Regions from separate parts of the Homo sapiens genome. Here region 2 is linked to region 1. The links come from fine-mapping of genetic effects on gene expression. Tissue or cell type: whole blood. Region 1 holds a variant in brackets; the other region holds the start of a gene. All regions are shown on one strand. Distances are between the middles of the regions.

Region 1 (8,000 bases):
AAAGTGCTGGGATTACAGGTGTGAGCCGCTGCACCTGGCTTGATTTTTAAATAGATGTTTCCCCAGCATGCTCAGGGAGTTTGCCAGTTACATCTCTCCCTGTAATATCTTGATGGAGGTGCAGGGCTCTAGCTGGAGTCTGAACGAGCACGTTTTGCATCGTGAAGGTGCTGCACGGTGGTTTAAACCCAGCCACACACACTGCCGGTCTTGACCGGCGGAGATTCCGCTAAGGTTAAGTGTGTCCACAGAGTAGAAATCTCCGTCCACCAGCCCGGCGGAAAGGTTCCTGTACGAGCAAGTGCCCATCTGTGGAGGACATCTCTCCAGAACATTCTTGCCCGACTTAGAAAGGAGCTTAGTGGTTGCCTAGGGCTGGAGTGACGGGTGGGACAGGCAGGGGGGACGGAGAATGACTAAGAGCTAGGGGGTTCTTTCTAGAGTCAGGAAAATGTTCCGAAGTTGACTTGGTGGCCGCGCAACTCTGCGAATGCGCTGAAAACCACGGACTGGAACAATGGAAAGGGTTAGTTGTAAGGTATGTGCAGTCGATCTCAGGCAAGCTGTTTTTGGGGAGAATTCTTGCCCAAAAGCTCCCACACTGAGGGTCTACTCCAGCCCTGGGTTTTTCCCAGGTCCACCCAGAAGCTGATGGCTCCTGGAAGTTGGGCCAAACTGGTGACTTGGTTGGAGATGACACTGCCTGGCTCAGCCTCAGACCACAGAGCCGTCTCTACACAGCGAGCTGGAACTGGCCACCGCTCCACCAGTGCTGAGCCCGAGTGACTTGGGGCATGTCATGTGCCTTCATTCCCATCCCCTCCCTAGGCCACAAATCCTACCACCTGCCCGGCCAAACAGAAAGCTGTCAGGAAAATAAAAATAGCTCACTTAATTCTCGATGACATAAATATAAATACAATTGTCATCATTTCAGACTCAGAGAAATAATCAGAGAGGGAAGGAAGAGCCCGTGAAAGCTTCCGGAGGCGATTTTTAAAATGAATGTGACAGATCGCTCCTGTCCACCGCTGTCCCCTCGCCCCGTCTCTCCCAGCGGAAGGACGGGTTTACTTTCTGGATGGGGTGAACCCGAGGCCTGGACGAGGGCACCCAACACAGAAGCGGCAGACAGTGACATCTCACGCCAAAAATAGCCTTGCGACCTGAAATTCTGCAGGAGGACCAGAGGCTCTCAGCCCCCCAAGCTTCCAGAGCTGAGCCCAGCTATCAGCAGACAATGGCGCAGGAGAAAAGCCTGAGACCCAGCCTTCCTGAGCCCCCCATGAAGCCCCAGGGAGGGAGCCCCGTGCACCGATGCCCACGCACACTTGGGCAGCGGGGGGGTGGGCCGGGGGGCACCTCCCCTTCCACAAGAACAGACACTTGGGGAATGCCCCCATCAAGGAAGACAGGGACTGAGGCAAAGGAGTTTGAGGGGCAAGGAGGAAGCAGACGATCTGGGGAGTGGTGGAAGCCACAGAGCATCTCATCCTCCCAAGGAGGGAGCGGGCCCTGCACCTGCCCACCAAGGCCAGGACCACAAGAGCCACAGCCAGGGGAAACGGGAAATCTTGCACAGTTTAAAGTGACTCAGAAAACATCAAAAGGAAGAGGCTGGATGAGATCTGTCTCAGGAAGGACAAAGAAAACAGGAGCTTCAGAGGCTCTGTCTGGGAGGCCTACGGCTTGAGATAGAGTCACCCCACACAAGCCGCTCCTTCTCAGGAGCTCTGGGAATGCATCTGCTGTCTCCTAACTGCTGTGGAGTCGCGTGTCTTCTAGGAGCTGGGCGGCACGGTTACTAAGGTTAAAACACAGGCATCGCTTCAGTGGTTAGGGGTTGAGGACATGGGTGACGAGCTGGAAGTCTGATGGCCTTCCCTGCGCCAGGTGAAGCTTCACCCACGGCACGTGGAGGGCAGACTCCACGTGGCCAGCACCTGCCACCCAGATGAGCTCTGGGGGAAGTCCAGGGTTGGCGCGTGCTGGGAGGTCCCTGTGGCTTCCCCAATCCCATGGCGCTGGCTATGACGGCCAGAGAGAGGATGTCAGCCGGACTAAAGACCAGGGAAAGGCTCCCACCGTCCCACCCAGCCTGCAGCTTCGGGGACCTCAGAGCAGCCTCTCCCGTGAGAGAAACAGCAGACCCAAGAGCAAGGGCCAGAAGACGCCAGGCCGGTTTTCACGAGCGATACCTGCAGGATGCAGTTCCCATGTGGGCACTGGGCAGCTTCCTGGACTGTGGCTGAGGCTGTAGTTCCCAGAGCACCTTCTCTCCTGCTTCTATAGCAAACATGGAGACAGAGAAACGTCCACCCAACTGAAGACCATGTTTCTCTGCCCCTCTTGCAACCATGAGACTATGAGCTGGTCAATGGGATACAAATGGGTCATGTCTATATGAGGAACCAAGGGCCTTCTTCACTCCTCCCCTTCCCAACAGCCAGATACTGCTGTGATGGCAGGAGCCGAGCAGCCACAGTGGACCATAAAGGCACACTGCATAACGGAGCAACAAGCAACGTAATAGAAAAAGTCTGGTGCCTCCAGGTCATAGCTGACATTAAGATGGTCATGTGTGGCTGGGTAGGGTGGCTTACATCTATAATCCCAGCACTCTGGGAGGATGAGGTTGGAGGATTGCTTGAGCCCAGGAGTTTGAAACCAGCCTGGGCAACACAGCAAGAACCCAGCTTGAAATAAAAAAATAATAAAATTAAAAAAAAAAAGACCGTCACGTATAAAAGAAACAAACTTGGCCCTCGTTATTTTTGACCTTTGTTGCAAAATCAAAACTACGTCCTAACTGAAAGAATCCAGGAAGAGGGTGAAAAGCCCCAGAACAGAAGCTGTGCAGGAGCCCAGAGCTGTGCAGGAGAGAGCCAGGGCTCTCAGGAGAAAGTTCCCAGGAGAACTGAAGGACAGGAATGTCGTCTTACCCAACTGCTGAGCGAAGTTCTAGAGTTGGGTCAGCGTCCAGAGATCAATTCACAATAGGTACAGAGAACGCTGGACGAGTAAGAAGATAAACTCTGCGCTATGGGAAAGAGGCACACGTGTAAGGGGCGTGCAGCGCAGACCCGCGGCTCCGGATGAGGAGGGCAGCAGTAGAGCCAGACCCTGTCTTCTCTAACGGAAAGCCATGTGTGTCTAC[A/C]ACAGGGCGAAAACTCAGTGAATAGCAGCTCAGACTGTTAATCAGGATGCTTTAAAAGCCACTGCCTCTGCGAAGTGAGACCTGAGGACTTCTGTTTGAAGCCTTGCGTTACTATGGCCATTTAAAACTATGCATATTGGCTGGCGCGGTGGCTCATGCCCGTAATCCCACGGTGGTTCACGCCTGTAATCCCAGCGCTTTGGAAGGCTGAGGTGGGACGATCGCTTGACCCTAGGAGTTCGAGATCAGCCTGGGCAACACAGTGAGATCCTGTCTCTAAAAATTGTTTAAGAAATTAGCCAGGTGTGGTGGCGCACACCTGTAGTCCCAACTACTTGGGAGGCTGAGGAGGGAAGATGGCTTGAGCCTGGGCAGCGGAGGCCGCAGTGGGCTATGATGGTGACTGAATGAATGAATGAATGAATGGAGAACTGTCGGCACTGGGATCTTTGGTCAGTCTCTTCATACACTGGCCTGGTTTCCCTCATCAGCCAAACTGGGGTAATGATGGTGCATAATCAGAGTTCTTGTGGACTGAACAAATGATTCCAAGCAACGTCATCAGACGCACACAGGGCGTGTCACACATAAGGAGCCCTCGCTAAATACTGAGGCGTGGGGGAATATGGAAACGTTTACAACAGCTTGATAAATGTAGCAGAAGCCCAAGTGGAACAGTGCAGCGGCTCACGGCAAGGGAGGTGAAGTCAGACCTGCCTGGCTGGAGCCTGGGCTGCTCAGATGCCCTGGGGGCACCTGGGCAAGTCACTGAATCTGAGCCCCGCCCTGGCCAGCCCGGCCTCCGTGTGGCCTCAGGTCTCCATGCCGTGAACATCAGTCCTGACCGGACGGCTGGCACGTAGCAAGCGGTTACTGAAAATGTGCTTCAGTTATTCTTGTTATTAGACAAGGACTGGAAGGACAAAGGAAAACAGCCCAGGATAAGGATGGTGTTATAAGCAGGCCTCTCTGTTTTCTTTTTTTTTTTTTTTTTTTGAGGCAGAGTTTCGCTTTGTTGCCCAGGCTGGAGTGCAGTGGTGCAATCTCAGCTCACTGCAACCTCCGCCTCCAGGTCCAAGCGATTCTCCTGCCTCAGCCTCCCGAGTAGCTGGGATTACAGGTGCCCACCACCATGCCCGGCTAATTTTTGTATTTTTAGTAGAGATGGGGTTTCACCATGTTGGCCAGGCTGGTCTTGAACTCCTGACCTCAGGTGATGCACCCGCTTTGGCCTCCCAAAGTGCTGGGATTACAGGCGTGAGCCACTGTGCCCGGCCGCCTCTCTCTTTTCAAAAGGTTCTTTAAATGTTGCTACCATGTCCTTGAAGAAATGAAAGACTCAAGAATGGGAGGCAAAAGCTGTTACATACTCCAGGTACTTTTCGAATTTTGCAGGCTGCAACGTGTCTTTAGGATACCCGATAAAGTACTAAACCTGGCTCGCCTGGTTCTGTTAAGTGGTTTGGCTCTGAGGCAGGGGGAAAACGTCCCGCAGGGCCCAGGCCCCCAAGAGTCTCAAGGGAAGGCCGGGGAACAGCAGAGCTTGACTTGCAGGGATGCTCACCCACCACCTCGGAGGCCCCTCACCACCTCCTACCAGCAAGTTCTCTGTGCAGGGACAGGAAGTCAGGTGACGGTCCCAGGGTGGGCCACATCAGATAAGGCCTGAAACTGGAATGCCGGAGGCCCTGCAGTGTTTGCTTAAACTCCTCCGAGAAATAAGACTGTTCAGCAAATGGTTTTGATTTTTTGTAGAGACAGGGTCTTGTTATGTTGCCCAGGCTAGTCTCCAACTCCTGGCCTCAAGGGATCCTCCTGCCTCGGCCTCCCAAAGTGCTGGGATTGCAGGAGTGAGCCACCGCGCCCATCCTCAGGAAATGGTTTTGAAAGAAACGTTAACATATAAAATCCCCAAATCAGAGAATTCTGACAACCTTAAATTTTTTAACCTAAAATACTGTCTTTCTATTAAAAATGGAAGGCATTTATTTATGACAACCCCAAAACGAACACAGGTGGCTGCAGCCATAGGCGCCTCTCTATTGCAGAGACCACGTCTTCGCCAGCAGCTAAGAGCAGTGCATGGCAGTGAAGGGACACAGGTTACAGACGAACCCGCAGCAAGGACGTCTCAAGTGTGGCGGCTTTGGAAAATAAGGCACAAACTTGAAGGCGGGGCGGGGGCTGGGTCGGCAAGGTCCCTGACAGCAACACAAACGTCCATCCCCTCCCCGACAGACACGGAACCAGCACTGGTGCCTGCAAACCACGCCCTCTCCACTGGGCCTGCGTCCCTCCTCCAGGAACCAGAGCTGCAACCGTGACTCCACTTTTGGGTCCATGCCACAACCCTGTTCTCCTGAACCCCACGGCTGACAGCGGTGGCAAGCTGGGTAGCAGGGTGGTCAGAGACACAGCTCTGTGCCTGCCCATCACTCACCCTGGCCGAGTGTACTCGGCTCTGGGCCCTCCGTTCTCGCAGTGACAACAATGTGGGGGTGTGCGTGGTGTGTGTGAATTAAAACCCGGTAGCAGTTTTAGTGTTTATAAGTTCTTATGCGTTCATAGGGCCTAATTTGTTTAAATAGGGAGAATGCATCTATTTTTGTAATCAGGCAAATAAGCATGTCCTATTTGGAAAAAGAAAAGACAGCGAGATACTCAAGCCCATATGCTGAGTCGGTGACACGCGGTGAAAAACGCAGACAACGGTCTGACCGAAGCCGGGCTTTCTTTTTCCTTTTCTTTTTTTTATTTAAATTGTTTCGACAGAGTCTCGCTCTGTCGCCCAGGCTGGAGGGCAGTGGCTGGATCTCAGCTCACTGCAAACTCCACCTTCCGGGTTCAAGCGATTCTCCTGCCTCAGCCTCCCGAGTAGCTAGGATTACTGGTACCCACTACCAGGCCTGGCTAGTTTTTGTATTGTTAGTAGAGATGGGGTTTCACCATGTTGGCCAGGCTGGTCTCAAACTCCTGAGCTCAGGTGATCCACCTGCCTTGGCCTCCCAAAGTGCTGGGATTACAGGCGTGAGCTGCTGCACCCGGCCAGGGTTTCTTTTTGAAGCTGAAGTCTCGGTCTCTGTCTCAGGAAGACCCTGGAGGAAGGTGGCGAGAGACCTCACTGAATTAGGATAGAGCCCCACAGAGGCGGCCAAGCACAGCCATGGCCACCGACCCTCCCTGGGGCTCAGGTGTGTGTCCTGCCGGGTGGGGCTCCCGGGGCCCGGCAGTCCTGAGCACCCCATGGCAGCACAGGCGAGGACGGCACCCTCGGTGTTCACAGCTCCTTCAAAATCCCCCCACCTTCCCTTCGCGGAAGGAACGCTCATCTGGTAGGTGACTGCTTCCCAATCCCAACATGGGGACCCGTGGTGACTCCCACAGCTTTACTCTGCGGAGGCTAAGGGACCCCCAGATGACTGACACGGCCAAACGGCGGTGGCCCCAGCGATCTGCATTTCTAGCAGACGTTCCACTCCCCAGACAACCCTGCCTGGCCCAGGAGAAAGCCACTGCCTGCTGCTCCCGAAGAGGATCCTGAGGATCGGAGAGTAGGCTCCGAAATCACCTCCGCTCCCCACCATGCTGTGTGGCTTAAACAGACGTAAAAAGACCGCGTAAAGATGGACTAGGCTCTTTAAGACAGCGGACACAGACACAGTGTTCTGCAACCCTCTGGGGCTGACCCGGGCAGAGCTTGCTTGCGACGAGCAATTCAGGTTAACTTTCATCTTCTGTCTCTACGCTGATTTAAGAAAATGCTTCTGGGAAGTCAAAATGGCTTAATCTGCAGATCTCAAAATGCTGTCCACAGTAATTCCACGTAGTCATTATTCACTGGCCACCTGACTGATACCAAGTACCAGACGCTGGTTTATCTGCATAGACTTTGCGTCCTCTAAGACTGTTCCCCAGGGTCCCCTTCTCTATCTAGGCAGCCTTCCTTGAATTCCCTGGCTCACTCTCATGCCCGACTTAAGAAAAATACGTTTTCTTTTCTTTCTTTTTTTTTTTTTTTTTTTTTCAAAAAGAGACGTGGTCTCACTATGTTGCCCAGGCTGGCCTCAAATTCCTGGCCTCAAGTGATCCTCCTGCCACAGCCTCCCAAAGTGCCAGAAGTATAGGCTTGCACCACCACGCCTAGCTGGTAGCAGGTTCCTGGAGGAGGAGTCCCATCTGCTGCTGGTCTGTTCTCCCCACAGCACGTGGCTCCCACAGGGCAGAGGGTCAGTACACACACAGCACGTGCACTTTAGTGCACACGAGTAAGAGTTCATAACCATGCAGTTCTCTCAGGAATGTGGAGTCTCCCAGGAGGTGAATGCATAGAAACAAGTTTACATGTGAAGTGGAATGAGCTTAATGCTCAACAGCAGCACAGCCGCAGCCGGACAACCCCGAGGACTGAGGGTTAAAATCTGGGTGCTCTTTGGAAATTCCAAAAACCACAGAGAAATGATTAGACTTTTCTGATCCTGGATTAACCTTGAAAGGACAGCAACAATACCGCCTTTGCTGTGTTAGGATCGATGATCCAAAGAATCAGAGAACGTTTGGCAGGCAAGAAAGAGTCGTGTCACATCTCCACTGGAGGCGGGGGGCTGCCAACAGAACTGCTCCAAACAGAAGCTTGTGAGCCGGTCCCGGCTGCCATCCAGGGCCAGGGCAGTCCCCTGGTTGCTGTCCCGGGGGCCCAGCTGCCTGAGGTCAGTGCCACTAAACATGGCTGGGGAAGGGCCCCTGGAAATGTCTGTGCAGTGATTGGTATCTGTCTATACCAATGCCAGTCCAATCGGCAAACACACGCCACCGACTGTCTCCATTTTACCGGCCGCTTTTCCTC
Region 2 (8,175 bases), 44 kb before region 1:
TTCTACTAAAAATACAAAAAAAAATAGCTGGGCGTGGTGGCACAAGCCTGTAATCCCAGCTACTCAGGAGGCTGAGGCAGGAGAATCACTTGAACCCGGGAGGAGGAGGTTGCAGTGAGCTGAGATCATGCCATTGCACCCCAGCTTGGGCAACGAGAGCAAAACTCCGTCTCAAAAACAAAAAAAAATAAAAATAAAAAAAATTCACTGGGCATGGTGTAGTCCCAGCCACTTGAAAGGCTGAGGTGGGAGAACTGCTTGAGCTGGAAGATCAGGCTGCAGTGAGCTGAGATTGTGCCACTGCACTCCAGCCTGGGTGACAGAGTAAGACTCTACTTCAAAAAAAAATATATATATATAATATAATATATATGTTATATATAATGTTATATATGTTATATATGATATATATGTTATCATGTTATATATGATATATAATAATCATGTTATATGACATATAACACGTTATGATATATAACATGTTATATGTTATATATCATATATAACGTGTTATGTTATATACGTTATATATGTTGTTATATGCGTTATATACGTTATGTTATGTTATATACATTATTTCTAATGTTATATATGTTATATCTAATATATGTTATACATAATATATGCTATATATTATGTTGTTATATATGTTATGTTATATATGTTATATAGTTGTTATATATGTTATATATAATATATAATATGCTCTATCTCAAAAATGTATATAATATATATTTTATATATATTACATATAAAAATATATTTTTATATCTATCTATCTATCTATATATATATTTTTTGAGATAGAGTCTTATGCTGTCACCCAGGCTGGAGTGCAGTGGCATAATCTCAGCTCACTGCAGCCTGATCTTCTAGCTCAAGCAGTTCTCCCACCTCAGCCTTTCAAGTAGCTGGGACTACACTAAGCCCAGTGAATTTTTTTTATTCTTTTTTTGATTATATATAAAATATTATATATCATTATATATTATATATAATGATATATAATATAACATATAATATATAACATATAATTATATTATATATTACTAAATATATATGTAATATATAATATATAAAATGTTATATATAAATTATATATACACACATATACATATATACACACAATGGAAAATCTTTCCCAGAAAGGTGGAACCCCTCATCCCGATTAAATTCCCTTCAGCATATTCTCCAAGTCTCAAGCTTCTCTCTAAAATCCAACCCACCCAAACCCTTCAACAGCTCCCCACTGCTTTCAAATCCAAACTCCTACAGACCCCAACGCTGCCTCCAAGAGCCCGGCCCCGCCTTCCTTCTCCAGACTCCATGTCCTGTTTCTTTTGCTTCTGTCCCTTCGCACAGACCCTGTGCCTGATACATGCCCCACTAGCTCCCGAGCTAGTGGGCTGAGGCTCTTCCTCCTGGAAATCCCCGACCTTGCGGGGCACCCCTCCATGCCCCCATCCTTTACTCGCTTCCCGCTCTCTCCATTTATCCTTCAGCTTGCAGCGCTATCTTTGATCACTTTTTGCACCCTTGCTTTCCGTATCTCTGACACATTTAGAGAGAAACTAAAGTTCACTCCAAATCTTTTTGGCTTTCTTTGGAGACAGGGTCTCCCTCTGTCACCCGAGCTGGAGTGCAGTGGCACCATCATAGCTTACCGCAGCCTCAACCTCCTTGGCTCAAGTGATCCTCCTGCCTCAGCCTCCTGAGTAGCTGTGACTATGGGTACGTGCCACCACACCTGGCTAAGTTTTTTAAAAATTCTGTTTTGTAGAGACGGGTCTCGCTATGTTGTCCAGGCTGGTCTCAAAGTCCTAGCCTCAAGCGATCCTCCTAACTCGGCCTCCCGAAGTGTTCGGATTACAGGCGTGGGCCAGTCACTGCGCCTGGCCGGCTCCAAACCTTAACCCTCAAACTACAGTCATTTATTTTAAAATATCATCAGAAATCACAGGCTTAAGAATATTGTGAAAACTGGTAAGCCCTAATAGATTAACCTTCTTGAAACCCTAACAGAGGGCAACTGCAGAACTCATGTATGTTACATAGGGAAATTCAACCACACTCTATCCTCAAAAACGGCTGCCCACCCGAGCCAGGGAGGCAGAGAAACAGGTATTTAAATAGTGAGGGCTCAGCCGGGTATGGTGGCTCACACCTGTAATCCCGGCACTTCGAGGGGCCGAGTCAGGCGGATCACCTGAGGTCAGGAATTCGAGACCAGCCTGGACAATGTGGTGAAATCCCATCTCTACTAAAGATACAAAAAATCAGCCGGGTGTGGTGGCGGGCGCCTGTAATCCCAGCTACTTGGGAGGCTGAGGCAGGAGAATTGCTTGAACCCAGGAGGCGGAGGTTGCAGTGAACTGAGATTGCGCCATTGTACTCCAGCCTGGGCGACAGAGGGAGACTCTGTCTCAAAAGAGACTCTAATAAAAATAAATAAATAAATAAATAAATAAATAAATAAAGAGGGCTCTTCCTTTTGTTTTTCATGTCACAAGTTTATGACCTTGAGCAGAATGTGACTGGGAATGAAGTTCTCAGTGGGTGTTTTTCCTTGTCTCTTGGCAAGGACCTTGGGATTAACATGTTACATGCTGAGATGCCAGTATTTTTCATTTTCATATAGTCCCCACATTCACATGAATGACATATCTGTCCAGGATTGAAGGGAAGGTTGCCTATGTTGAGCTGCTGGGAGATGGTGCTGCATATTCACCAAGCCTCTTCCTAATGAGTGGACTCTTAAGGGTTATTTTGATCAGAGATTTTTGTCCTGTTCGGGCTTTAGAACTTAACCTGCCTTCAAGACCTCACTCACTATAATCACAGCAATTTCAACCACCCGAATCTTTCCCACCAATTGGTCTAGCTCTGAGTCCAGGTTTGCTTGTTTGTTTTGACATGGAGTCTCGTTCTGTCACCCAGACTGGAGTCCAGTGGTGCGATCTTGGCTCACTGCACCCTCGGCCTCCTGGGTTCATGCACTTCTCCTGCTTCGGCCTCTCACCTCACCAAGTTTGTTTACGTTTACCAAGGGGCTGTAGTGCTGGCTGTATTTTCTTTACTTTTTTTCTTTTTTCTTTTGAGACGGAGTTTCGCTCTGTCCCCCAGCCTGGAGTGCAGTGGCGCCATCTCAGCTCACTGTAACCTCCACCTCACAGGTTCAAGCAATCCTCCTGCCTCAGCCTCCCGAGTAGCTGGGATTACAGTCACCCACCACCACGCCCGGCTAATTTTTTTTTTTTTTTTTTTTTTTGTATTTTCAGTAGAGACGTGGTTTCCTCATGTTGGGCACGCTGGTCTCGAACTCCTGACCTCAGGTGATCCGCCTGCCTTGGCCTCCCAAAGTGGTGGGATTACAGGCGTGAGCCACCACGCCCGGTCAGCATTTTCTTCTTTTAAACATGTAGTATGAAGTCTTTGCCTGTTTGGTGGACCGTGAGTCTGTTCAGTCCTGGCTTACACTGTTTTCCCCCATGACTGGTTAGTTGGTGAGGAAGGAGCTACTCACTCGTTACTGGGAGTCCAGACACAGCCTGAAACCAGCCTGGAGGGTGATTTCTCAGCCTAGCTAATACATCCGCGCAAGAGAGATCTTTTTAAGTCACAAAACCCTCCCACGGTTCCGCAAAGCCCTCGGATGGCCTCCAGCTCCCCAGCCTGGCACACAGCCTTATTCCTTAGCAGGCCTCCGGACACTGTGACTTTGCGTTCTTGACTGTGAGGCACTGAAATCTCCCGGCTGCCCGATTTCCTGCCAGACGCGGAGTTCTCACCGCCAAGCCTTTGACTAAACTGTCGACTGGGTCCCACCCCACTTGCTTTCACTCACCAAGACTCTGCTCAAGTGTCACCTCCTCCGGGGACCCACCATGACCCTCCCCGACCTCCTCACCCCAAGCCTGGCCGCCGTGTTGCCTTACCCGATCCCCAAGTCTCGAGGGCGAGTCCAGTCGGGTTCCTGCAAGGCTGGCGCCCAAGCCCCTGCCCTGTGAGACCCACCCCCGTGTGCCCCTAGGGAGAGATGCAGGAAGGAGGGCCGGGGCCGCAGCTCCCCCGTACCTGGCCTGGTGGAGCAAACTCTCCGCTCCTGCCGAGAACATCACGCCGCCGCCACCAGACGCGCACGAACCTCGGAAACTCCAGGAGCTGCAGCCCAGGAGCTCCGCACCCCGGTCAACTTCCGGGACCGCGTCACGTGAGCGCAGCGGCCTTACGTGGCTGCGTCACGTGCCGCATCACATGAGCAGGAGGGACAGGTTGCCGACCAATGGGCTTTGGCGTGGAGCGACTGGGGCGGGGCGTAGGTGCCGCGGCCGGGGGTCCGGGTCGGCGCCTGGGAGCTGCGGAATCGCGCGACCCCGGAACCTCGGCACTCTGGAGCCCCGGCGCCCTTCGACCCCGGAAAGCATTTCGGCGGAAATTGGGCGCCTGGGGCTTTGGGAGAGGGCATTGCTGGCCCCAAAGTGTCACTGCCCCAGTTCTGGTTTCTGTTTCGTAAACAGCTTTGTCGTGCGGGAGTCCCTTTGCTAAGTACGACCTGAAAATCTGATGCAAACTCCGACACTTGTGGGCTGAGCCCAGCAGTGTCCAGCAGTTTGCAAGGAATAGCCGCGGCTCTGGGCAGTTTTGGGGATTTTTTGAGCTCCCATTTATTGAGCACCCATCCCGCGCTGTTCCTGCTGCTTGAAACGAAAAAATCCCTTATTCAATCCCCACGGTATTCATGGGATCTCGCGATCTCTGTTTTACAGATGAGGCCACAGGCTCGGAGAGGGGAAGTTTCTGTTCATTCTAACGGATGTGTTGGGTGCCCAAATGTGCTGGGCCCTGGCCATAAGTTTGCCATCCTGCAGACGGCCGAGGGACACAGGGCGACACGCCAGCGTCATGATAAACGCTATGACAGCCTGACCTGGTTGGGGGTCCAACCGGAGGAGGAAGGCTTCGGCGACTGCGGCCTAAGATGAGCCCAGAGGGTGTCCAGACCAAGGGGTGGGGAGGGACGGGCCTAGGGTAGCGATCTGCTTCCTATGGCTTAAATGCACCCCAGGAGGAAACTGATCTCTGGCCGCAGGGGAGATAATGGATTGGGAAGCTCCTGAGGGAGAAAGGAGGCTGGTGCAGTTGTGGTCCAGGTAAGGGAGGTTGCCCCGAAAGTAGGCAGATTCAGTACCATTTAGAGGTAGGATTTGCACCACCTGTGATTGAGGAATTTGCAGGCAGGAGGAAGAAAGTGGAAAAATCAAGGGTAACTTCATGTTTGTGGGGTGTCTGTCTGGGGCAGAAAAGGACGAGGAAATTTGTGCCAAGAGTCATTCATTAAGTGGACAAGCGATGATTGAGTCCTAGCTGCGCTAGGCACTGCTGAAGGTTCTGGGGAATAGGGTAGGGGTGGGAATCAATGTTGCGTAGATAGGGTGGGTCAAGGTTAGGCCTTGAAGGGATAAGCCCCGAGAAGACCCCTGGATGGAAGGAAGGAGGAGGAGGAGGGAGGGCTTCCTGCAGGAGTTCCAAACATGGCTTTGAGATGCCCTAGGGCGCCCAGTGATGTCTGAGGGCACCTGGTGCAGAGAATGAAGAGATGGGAATCGGTGGATGGTGAGCGGTGGATGGGAGTCGGTGGAGTGCGGCGGGTGCCCCTGGAGCCGCAGGTTGAAGACTGGCAAAGGAAAGCTGGTGACAGGTAGTCTATGGAAAGCCTACTGCCAGTGTTTAACGTTTACTAGGGTAAAACGTCCACACCAAAGCGCACAAATCTTAAATGAACTCCACTATTTACATTTCTAGAAATCGGTGGTAAATTTGCAAATGTCTTAAGCCTCGGCTCCATTGGCGACGGTGGGGAGCCGGGGGTTGATTTGTGTTTGATAATTTCTGTGGTGTAAATGTTCCTGCCATGGTTTGAGTTCAAGACCTAGACCATTTCCAGCTCCCCAGAGGTTCCCCGCTGTGGCCCCCTCCCAGTCAACGCCCACTCCCTTCCCCCACAAGTAACTGCTAGTCTCTCTTATCACCAGAGATTAGTTTTGCGTCTTTTTATACTTCATGCAAATGGAATCGTACCGTACTTAGCTTTTCTTGTTCGTCCATGAATATTTGGTCGGTTTCCAGATTTTGACAATAACGAATAGAGCTGCAGTGCACAATTGTATGTCTTCTGGGGTTCTGAGAGATGCACCCCTCTTTGTTGTATAGATACCAGGTTCACAGGGAAGCTAACTTTAACTGAGATTCCAACTGTGTGCCAGGAATCTCAATCTCTCTCTCCCTCTCTCTCTTCACACAGACACGACCTTAAGCAATTTTACCAGGGGTAATATTTGACTTGTTTCTTACAAAATATTTACATTAGTGTAAAATATTATTTTAAGGTCTCACTAGTGAAAAATGGTTGTGCTAATCAAAAGCAAAAAAGGCCAGGCACGGTGGCTCACACCTGTAATCCAAACACTGGGAGGTCGAGGCAGGAGGATCGCTTGAGCCCAGTTCAAGACCAGCCTGGGCAACATGGCAAGACCCTGTCTCTAAACAAGCAAGCAAACAAACAAACACAAAGACAACATCTTAAAAAGGAAAGATGCAATTAATAATTAGCCAACGCAGATCCCTGGAGGAAGCCTACATACGCTTCTCACTCATGTTTGCTATTGGGCTAAAATGTTTTTCTTTTTTTTCTTTTTTTTTTTTTTTGAGACTGAGTCTTGCTGTGTCCCCCAGGCTGGAGTGCAGTGGCGTGATCTCAGCTCACTGCAACGTCCACCTCCTGGGTTCAAGCAGTTCTCCTGCCTCAGCCTCCCAGGTAACTGGGATTACAGGTGCAAGCCACCATGCCTAGTTAATTTTTTGTATTTTTTTTAGTAGAGACGGGGTTTTACCATGTTGTCCAGGCTGGTCTTGAACTGCTGACCTCAAATGATCCACCCGCCTTGGCCTCCCAAAGTGCTGGGATTACAGGCGTGAGCCACCGCGCCCAGCCTGGGCTGACATCTTAAACTAGAACTAATCTGTTAAAGTTATGTTAACCTCTTACAATGGAAATGGAGTAACTTGAAGGAAGACAGAGAAGCAGTGAAACCTTACCTGCAATGGTGGGTAACTGTGCCATCGGAAAAATGCAAGTTATTGAACTGAGGGAGTCACATGCAAACACTACAGAACCTTGACAGAAGAGAGACATGTGACAAGCATGCACCACTGTCAAGTCTGTCGGAGGCAGTCACACAGACACACCCAAGGGTCTCATAAGTCTGGGGGACTCTCAGAAGAGACAGTGACTGATGGCATCGCAGCTGAGCTTCGGGGCGCCAGGCCTGTGGGGTGGGGGTGCCTGTGCTGCATGTGAAGAAGTGGGGCGCATTGCAAGCTGAAGTCCCACAGCTGGTAAGGACACAGTAGGAACTTGAACCCAGGTCTGTGTAGTTCCAAAGTCAATGCCATCCCCACCCCCCAGGCCCCACACCTACAATAAGTAAGGCCTGAGAGAATTTCTACCCACGTACATTTCTACCCATCTTGGACATGGGTAGAAATTCTCATCTAGCCAAGGGCCAGCAGGAAGGACCCACAGTTGCCCAGGAGCCACTGGGGCAGCAACGAGTACCTGCAAGTGCCCCCCAGCCAGGATGTGGGCGTGTGCCAGGGGCAGGGGGTTGGCTCAGCTGGTTTCTGCCTTTGCCATGTCTGAGGGGAGACACACGTTGTCTTCACATTCCTGGAGCTGCAAACATCCTCGCTTAGAGCACTCTCAGTGGGTGGGGGTCACTGACTCCAGGAGCCACAGGCACCTGCAGAAGCATCTCCTGTGTGAGCCAGGAACGGGACACCAGGGACCTATGGGCGACTTCCCTTATCAGCAGCCGCCCTTCAGCCTCTGGAGCAGGGGGGCGCAGTGCCTGTGTGTCCAGGGGGCCGGGAGCCTGTATGTCCAGGGGCTCAGGGGTCTGTGTGTCCAGGGGTCAGGGGTCTGTGTGTCCAGGGGGTCGGGAGCCTGTGTGTCTAGGGGGCCGGGAGCCTGTATGTCCAGGGGCTCAGGGGTCTGTGTGTCCAGGGGTCAGGGGTCTGTGTGTCCAGGGGGTCAGGGGCCTGTGTGTCCAGGGGGTCAGGGGCCTGTGTGTCCAGGGGGCCGGGAGCCTGTATGTCTAGGGGGTCGGGAGCCTCTGT

Evidence for each region. PIP is the estimated chance that this variant, and not a neighbour inherited with it, causes the effect.
Region 2: AP5Z1 starts here. The variant in region 1 is fine-mapped to the expression of AP5Z1 in whole blood (INTERVAL, PIP 0.95).

Annotation. Positions count from the first base shown.
Region 1 is chr7:4,727,912-4,735,911 of GRCh38, reverse strand. The region is part of intron 1 of FOXK1 (forkhead box K1); the gene reads right to left. LOC124901581 (a long non-coding RNA gene) reads right to left here. Exons shown (of 2, transcript XR_007060199.1): 2 at 5,891-8,000. Among named protein-coding and RNA genes, the nearest start is that of AP5Z1, 44 kb to the left of the region's middle. The variant A/C (reference allele first, on the strand shown) is at 3,158.
Region 2 is chr7:4,771,656-4,779,830 of GRCh38, reverse strand. It overlaps AP5Z1 (adaptor related protein complex 5 subunit zeta 1), which reads right to left and starts at 4,208. Exons shown (of 17, transcript NM_014855.3): 1 at 4,075-4,208. The coding sequence starts at 4,115. RefSeq lists enhancers at 3,530-3,639, 3,660-3,719, 4,060-4,129, 4,560-4,649, 4,690-4,739 and 2 more and a silencer at 4,250-4,379.